Linked DNA regions of Homo sapiens: region 2 is linked to region 1. Evidence: fine-mapped expression QTL. A gene starts in region 1. The other region holds a variant in brackets. All regions are shown on one strand. Distances are from middle to middle.

Region 1 (4,390 bases):
GAGAGCTGGAAATAATGGCACTCTTCATGAAGTGAAACATTAAACCTGGGCTTCTCAACCTCAGCACTATTAACATTTTAGGCTAGATAATTCTTAAATCTTGGAAGCGGAGTGGGGGAGGGGGGAGATGTCTTGTGCAATACAGGATGTGGCAGCATCCCTGGCCTCTACCCACCAGATGAATAAGATCCTCTTCTACTTACATGATGACAGCCAAATATGTCTCCAGACATTGCTGGATGTCACTTGGGAAGTAAAATCAAAATTCCGTTGAAAACCATTACTTTAAGCCCTAGCATCCCTGCTTTACAGATGAGGAAATCCAGCTACAGAAAGGTACAGGAAGGCCCCAGCCAGGATTCAAGCTGGTGGTCTCACTCCAGGGCCCGGGCTCTTAGCCACTGCGCTTGACTGCCTTTATGGAAAGGAGATTCAAGCCAGCCTTCTGAACAGTATTACACATTTCGTGACAGACTGGATGACAAGAAGGGGATGAATTAATAAGATTCAAAGGTGAAACCTCAGTGCTTGCCGCTGAACTCAGAGGACAGTAGATAATAAGTAGTTTGGGTTTGAATATAATCAAGGTATATTAGGTCAAAACGGAAAAAGCCTGGTCCCTTGTACTATGAGAAAGGAGGTGGGGGGGGGGCGGGGGAGTTGGGGGGACGGTTCTTGCTCAGACTAAAAAGAAGAATCTTCTGTAGGGCTGGACTTGAAGTGTATGTGTGGTATAGACCAGCTAGGACCCAAATCCTGGCTGGGCCCTTTCCTAGCTAGCTGTGTGGCCCCATCTCATTTTGCCCGTTTGTAAAATAGGGGTAAGAGTCCCTACACACAGGCTTGTTATGAGAACTCAGGCAGTTAATAAGAACAACATGGCAAGCCAGCACGATGTGGTTGGCACTCCTCTCCTTCCAGGACATCCTCATTTCCTCCATGTCCCAACGCGCTCCGTACTGCGTGCCAACACCTCCCCTTACCCCTCAATAGTAGGGGTGGGGACCCCCACGCAGACCTCCCAGATAGAGCAGCGTGGACTGTCTGCGCGCCCCTCTCCAAAAGCAAAGCGTCCCACTGGGACTTTAGGGGGCGCCAACAGCCTTTCACTCCCTGATGCACTCGGCTTTCGGGGTCCTGGGGGTCGCCAAATGCGCGCGGCGAGTTGGCTGCCTCCGAAACAAACCAGGTAAATAGTCCACGGTGCAGCACGTACATTTCTGGCAGGTCCGCCCCGCGCAGGCTTGGGATAGAAGCCAGTCAGGCTCAGCCCAGCTCCCAGAGGCACAGGAGAGAAGCGCTAGATTTGGGAACGACCTGCTTTCCGAAGCTGGGCTGCAGAGGCAGGGAGTTGAGAGTTGTTCTATCCAGAAAGAAGCAGGGGGGGCGAGAGAAGAAACAGGAAAGTGGGAGGAAGAGGAGGCAAAAAAGAAAGCGCTGGGAAGCAGAGTTCCCTGTGGGACCCAGCCTACAACACCTGGGCAGGGACTTGGGAACAAAGCAGCTGCTTCAGGTCAGAAGTGCTCTGGGTGTTTCCGAAAAGAGGGCGCTTCGGAGAAGCCGGAGCCCGCTGGGGATGCCGGGCGCCCCCAGAGTTCAGGGAGCGCTCTCGGGCACCTCTTACCTTTGCTGGGGCCCCGGCGCGCACTTCCGGGGACTGCGCTTGGGGCGCGCGGGGCCGAGCAGGGGGACCCGGAGCTGATCACTGAGGGGCGGACACGACAAAGCGCTGCCCGGGTCTTGGGCCGGCACCAGTACCTCGGAAAGGAATCCCGGCGGAGGGGCCGCCGGGGTCAGGGCTGGCCTGGGGATGTGGGGTCCCGGCCTGGGTGCTCACGGACGGCGGCGCCAAGCCCCGCAGAAGCTGCAGGAGCCCGAGTCAGTGGGAGGAAAAGGTTGTCTCATTTCCTTCGATCTCCCCCCTCCTCCACCCGCTTGGCTCCGGACCTGCCCTCCCTCTCCCCCGCCCCCTTCTGCAAGCCAGCGGCCCATGTGGGCGCCCGCAAGACGCGAAACCTGAACGGCTGCGGCGTGCGGCACCTCCCTCCGCGCCAAGTTAGTTCACGCTCCCAACTCCTGCCTGCCTCCCCGCGCTGCCGACTGTCCGCAGGACCGGGGAGGTTCCCCATCGGCAGTCCCCAACCTATCCCGGTCCTCCAGGCTTTCCCCCTGCTGGGACGAGCCCAGATTTGAAAGCAGACCTCCAAGCCCCTGCCAGCATCCATCCTCTCATTCCTGTCCCGTCGCCTGCTTTGAGCCTGTATTCAGCTACTCAACTCAGACAGGAAATAACCACTTACTTTGTTAAATTTGATCAACTTTTTTTTTTTTTTTTTTCTGAGTGGGAAGTTAAAGCCTGATGCATAATCTCGAAGGAATGTTCATTTTTATCGGAAGAAATGCAGCTGAGGCCTCTGTTTGGCCTTTCTCTTTCAGGGTTGGGGTTTTGTTTGTTAAAATCAACAAGTATTTTATTGAGAGTGATGGGCGCTCAGCTGGGGGCTGGAAACGCAGAAACAACTAGAGGGACACCCTGTTCCTATACAATCGTCATAGGGGAAGAGTGCAGGGAGAGAACAGGTCCCGGGTTGCGGTGGTCTCTTAAGAGATGGGTCACGGAGTGAAAGAGCCTTCTACAGAATCAAAATAAAAGCTTGGACAGAGGGAAGACGGAATAAGAAAGCCTTCAGGAGGCGGTCTAGCAAAGAGCACAGCCAGGGCAGTGAGTGATGGTGGGGAACAGGGAGGAAAATATTGTGCCAGTCCGTTAGGAAAGGAGAGGAGCTCCTAGAAGCAGTGTGATGGAACTGACAAGATCTGATGACCAAGGGCTTGAAAGGGAGAAGATGAGGAGAGGATGAAGGAGAGAGGTGACTCCCAGGCCTCTGGCTAGAGTAGCCAGTGACCACGTGGATGACTAGAATCCCAGAGTGCCTTCTGGAGCTGCTACTCCAAGTGTGGTCCAGAGACTGGCAGTACTAACACCACATGGAAGCTTTATGGAAATGAAAACCCTCGGGCCGCACTTGAACCACTGGATTAGTATCTGCAGCTTAACAAGATCCCTAGATGATTCAAATGTGCATTAGAATTTGGAAGCACTGGCTGCTAGACCACTGACTGTATATTATGCTGTATATTGGACTGATTGTATATTAGACTATGGAGCCCTGGGTGTCTATTAGAAACACCTGGGGAGCTTTAAAAACCAATAGGTGGCCCCAGCTCCACCCTCACAAATATTTCTGTAATTGTCTGGGGTGGAGCTCCCACATCAGTTTTTTTTCAGATGCTCTCAAGATGATCTCATACAGCCAGAGATGAGAGCCACTGTTTCAGACTTACTCAAGAGCTACTTCATTTTACCTTGAAATGCTGCTCTTCAAAAGGAAAACAACACCTATCTGTAGATGAAAACGTAAAGACAGGTTATTCCACTCTCATGCAGAGGCAACTGGTCTGGTAGAAAGGGCCCTTGTTTCCTAAACTAATCAGGGAACAAGGTTCTAGCCTCAGACAGCACTAAATTACTCTCTGAACTTGAGAAAGTACTCCCCTCTCCGACCTCTGTTTCCTTATCTGTAAAAAGAATACATACTTGCCTGACTCCAAATTCCACACTCTGGCATGCAAGGGCCATCATCAGAGCTCCCCCTAACTCTCCAGCTTTCCAGCAGGCATATGGAGAGGCTGTGATGAGAAGCGGGGTTTCCTGATGTAATACTACGTGTGTTAGCCAAGGGCACAGCCCTGTACGAATATCAGAGATCAGAGGTTTGTGTGCCGAGTACAGGAGCACACATACAATCAGTGCTCAGTAAATGTGTGTTGAATGAACTAATTAGTAAAGAAATAAATAGATAGGGCACAGGTGCCAATAGGTGAGCACAGACTTTCTATAGATGGGCCCTAATCTTGAGCCTACTTATTTGCCCCCAGGCTGGAGAAAGGACACCTGGAAGCACTCTGACCCAATCTACCTTTGGATTTAAAAATACTACCACTACTAAGAACTGCTAATATGTGTTGGTACTTAGTACGTGCCAGTCACTGGGCTGTGTCTCACTTATAAACATTGCCTCATTTTATTAAAATGAAGCAGATACTGTTGAACCCCCTACACTTCAACAGATTTCAGGAATCACAGGTATGGAGAGACTAGAGCTGCCATCTAGATTATCTACTTCTGGTTGTGCAGCAGGACAGAAGTGCATCCGTTGCTAGCCTGAGAGCCCCTCTTGGGGTTCCTACGGGTCATTCTCCAGAACATGCATCCCTGCATGAAGGCCAACATTGAGATAAATGACTACTTAAGGATCCTACAGAGGTAGATTCTACCAGGAGCTATGTCAGAGGACCTATGGGTTATGGCTGCACCTTGGAAAGGAAC
Region 2 (4,390 bases), 35 kb after region 1:
GTTTCTTAATATAAAATGATGGCAAAAATAAGGGGAAATAGTTGTTACATAATGATTCAGACAATTTGGAGGGAGATTGGGAAATATCTGCTAAAATTAAAGTTTTAGATTCTTTGACAAAGCCATTTCATTGCTCTGTATCAATTCTAGAGAAACATTCACATCTGTACAGAGTCATGTGTATAAAAACATTTGTGGCCACATTATTGTAATAATAAAATCTTAGAAATAACCTTAGTGTCTGTGAGTAGGGTAATTATTAAATAATATGGCACATGCATATTATAGAAAATAAACAGACAGAATGAGTTTTCTCCATTTATACCAATATGGAAAACTCTCTAAGATATGTTAAGTGAATAAAGCCATTTTAGAACAGTACATACAATAAATTCCATTTGTGTGAAAAATTAAAACATAAAAATATTATAATTTCACAAGTACACATGTGCATGTAAATATGTATGTAAAAATTCGAAGGGATACACACATATAATTCACCCTGGAGAGGAAAATGAGAAGTGGCAAACGGGGATTTCAGCATTATTTGCAGTACTTGAATTATTTATAAACAGAATGTATACACATATTACTTGTACAAAAGGTAAAAACTTCTATATGTAGAAATAAAATTAAATGATTGATCTAATAGGGAGATAATTACCTATAAACTGAATAAAGAAAACTCATCACCCAGGATACCAACACAAGAAGCATTGGTGGCTATTTTTGCATAAAAGATGAAAGAAAGCAGCCATAAAAAAGTTTATGTTCTTCCCCCAAGGAAAAGAATGGCAATCAATGACAAGTCACAGCTGCATAGACGCAGCCCCATCTATGTGCTGACTCAGGAGGTAACGCAGTGCTTCCTCTCTTTGATTACCAGGGGTCTTGACTTCTGTACTAAAGTAAGAGAGAAAAATAATCTCTAAAAAACAGTTTTAATAAATATCACCTTTGCTGAGGGTAGGAAAACGACACTAATTTCACTGACAGACAGATTATCTCACACCACTGGCTTTTCAGAAAAATTGTGAAGCATGTCTGTAAGACAGCCCTTTAAAAAGACAATACTCTATGAAGTATTTTAAACACTGTTAACTAGAATTTTCTTTGTTAGTTTATGTCCCGGCATTCATAATTATGAGTTGCACATGATAAGCAAACAAAAGCCACTACCATTCAACTGATAGCATCATTTTCTCAACAGTTACTGGTTGTTCTGAGAATACTGACAGGCCCCTGACAAGTTTACTGGGTGAAAGAGTGCTAATTCCTGCATTAATAAGGAGAGACTTTTGTCATTAATAAGTCTTTGAAGTAGAAAAAAAAAAACCCAAATTGGTTAAGAGGCATGATCCTAATCCCAAAGCCACAAAAGAATGAGAAAGCTTCAGAGGGATAAGCCTACAATCTCTGCCTAGATCAATCAGGCTAGACTAGACTATGCTACCATAACAAACATCCCCCAAATCTCAGTGGCTTCAAACAATAAAAATCTCTTTATTGCTAATACTACACGTCCATCGTAAGTCAGCAAGGAGGTCCTGTACATCACAGTCACTCAGGAACTCATACTAACAGAGCAACTGCCATTCAGAAAGTTGCCACTCCCACCATGCAGATAGAAAGACAGAGAATTCTGGAGGATCTTGCACTGGTAATAAAATGTTCTGGCCCAGAAGTGACACACATCACTTCTGATCATTGGCCAGAGCTAGGTATATGGGCCCACTTAATCAAAGGATGCAAGAAAGTGCAATTCTGCCATGTGCCCAGAAGAGAGAAGAGCTATAAATAGTTGGCAAACAACATTAATAACTCACATTAGCCTGGCCCAGGGGCATCAGAGACATCTATATTGAGGATCCCAGGCCAACACCAAGTTGAAGCACAGGTCTGGAGAGAACCTGGAGGCCTCAGGTTGGCTTAACCAAGAAGTAGAAAAAACTCATCCTGCCCAAGAATCTTAACATAAGTGGAAAAATCCAGTAATGTCTAGTTTAGAATAATCTGTGCATGTAGGTGATGCTGGGATGTTTCTCCAAATTCCTCACAAATGATTCATGATCAGTAATTTTCAAAGCTAGCTGGTCATCAGAATCACTGGGGATGCTTTAGAAACTAG[G/A]AATGTCCAAGATCAACAAACCAGCAGGAAAAAAAAAAAAAAAGAAAGAAAAAAAGAGATGTCTGAGTCTTATTCCTAAGAATTTTAATTCAATATACAGTTGGAATAGGTCCCAAGAATCTACATACTTAATCCTCTGTAGTAAAATAAAAAGGCTTATTTGGTCCTTGTCCCCCATTTCTGGCACTGAGCTTCTAATACCCTTGGAATTTTCTGACTGTTAGAAGTGTTAGGGATGTCTCGTTATTCATAACAAGCTCTTTTCAAACATATCTGAGTCTATACTAATGAGGTGACTCAGGGTGGGCCTGAGATAGCTTCTCATGGGTTCCAGGGGGATCAGCCATGTGAGTGGAGGGTTGAAACTTTGAGCTACACAGTTCCACTCTTGAACCTCTCGGGAGGGGAGTGGAGCTGGAAATTGAGTCAAATTACAAATGGCCAATAATTTAATCAATTATGCCCTTGTAACAGAATCTCCATTAAAAAAAAAAACACCCTAAAAGATGGGGCTCAGAGAGCTTCCAAACTGGCAAACACATCCCCAAAGGCTCTTGCACTTGGGACCCTCCCAAACCTTGTGCTATGTACCTTTTCACCTAGCTGTTCATTTGTATCCTTTATAATCAACTTCAATAGTAAATATAGCATTTTTCTGAGTTCTGTGAATTGTTCTAACAAATTATCAAAACTTGGGCCAGGAGAAGCTATGAGAACCCCCAAGTTTGTGGCCAATTTGGTAACTTTGGGGGCTTGATACTTGTGACTGGCTCCTGAAGTGAGAGCAGTCTTGTGGGTCTGAGACCTTAACCCTGTGTTGCCTGACACTCACTCCAGGCAGTTAGTGTCAAAATTGAATTAATAGATGAGTCAGAGAATTCGTTGAGTAGAGGACACCTCTTACTTCACACCCCAGGGATTCTCATGATCATTAGGTTTGGTGACTTCTGCTGAAGACATTGAGTCATCCAGCCGTCCTTATGCAGGGTGATTTACCAGCATGTCCAACCTCACAGAGCGCTGAGACTACTGAGTGACCAGGAGACTCACAGGGAACCACTGAGCTCCAGCAAAATAGAGTGAAAGAAACACTGGCTGAGAGTCAGAAAGCCCACAACTCGGTCCTTGTTCTGGTTACCTAGTGTTGTGTAGAAAACCATCCCGGCCGGGCGCGGTGGCTCACGCCTGTAATTCCAGCACTTTAGGAGGCCGAGGCGGGCGGATCACAAGGTCAGGAGATCGAGACCATGCTGGGTAACACGGTGAAACCCCGTCTCTACTAAAAATACAAAAAATTAGCCGGGCGTGGTGGTGGGCGCCTGTAGTCCCAGCTACTCAGGAGGCTGAGGCAGGAGAATGGCGTGAATCCGGGAGGCGGAGGTTGCAGTGAGCCGAGGTTGCGCCACTGCACTCCAGCCTGGGCGACAGTGAGACTCCGTCTCAAAAAACCAAACCAAACCAAACAAAAAAACCATCCCAAAACTCAGTGGCTTCACATAGCAACAAACATCTAGTTTGCTCATTAATCTGCATTTTGGGGAGAACTCTGAGCAGACGGCTGTTCTTGTTCCATGTATTTCCAACAAGGAAGTCTTGAATGGAGCTGGAGGATCCACTTCCTAGTTAGCTCCAAAATGCTGACTGTCGGCAGAGGCTGCTGACCAGGGACCCTAACTCCTTCCCACATGTGTCTCTGGGGCTGCTGAAGCTTCCTCGCAGTATGGCATTTGGGTTCCGAGAGTCCAGATTCCCAGAGCAGGAAGTGGAAGCCGCTGGTCCCGTAAGGCCTGAGGCCATAAACTGGCACAGTGTCACTTAGGCAGGCCAAGCAATTACAGAACCTGTCCAGAATCGGGGTGGGGTGGGGCGAAGTGGTGCGGGAGGGATGTAGTTCCCACCACTAAATGGGAGAAATGTCAAGGCATTTTCGGTCACCTTGTTTGTTTTCCAGTCACCTTTCCCAGCCTCCTCGCCCCTCCCCCCAGTTATTATATTTTACTTTTCCCCTTCCCACCCCTGCCCTTTGCATCCAACAGGGGGCGGCAGCGGCGGTGAGGAAGACACGAGTCCCAGGGAGTCCTAGGAGCGCGCAGTGGGTGGGGCTGGACAGCGAGTTCCACTTCCATGCCGCCTGCGTGGGCCTCGCGCCTACAGATGGCCAACCTGCTGTACCACAGCCAGCACCACATCAAGATTTGGTTCCAGAACCGGCGCATGAAGTACAAGTAGGATTATGGGCCAAGGAGATGGCCTCGTTGTGGG

Alleles and levels. Positions count from the first base shown, and alleles are read on the strand shown. Sizes are in standard deviations (SD) of each study's normalised expression.
As copies of G replace A in region 2, the expression in fibroblasts of the gene that starts at base 1,884 in region 1 goes up (small effect, 0.26 SD a copy in GTEx).

What was found. PIP is the estimated chance that this variant, and not a neighbour inherited with it, causes the effect.
Region 2: its variant is the best candidate, but not a certain one, in a credible set for the expression of EVA1A in fibroblasts (GTEx, PIP 0.84).

What each region holds. Positions count from the first base shown.
Region 1 is chr2:75,559,056-75,563,445 of GRCh38, forward strand. EVA1A (eva-1 homolog A, regulator of programmed cell death) reads right to left here and starts at 1,884. Exons shown (of 4, transcript NM_001135032.2): 1 at 1,625-1,884. RefSeq lists a silencer at 1,834-1,893.
Region 2 is chr2:75,593,908-75,598,297 of GRCh38, forward strand. No RefSeq gene overlaps it. Among named protein-coding and RNA genes, the nearest start is that of EVA1A, 35 kb to the left of the region's middle. The variant G/A (reference allele first, on the strand shown) is at 2,129.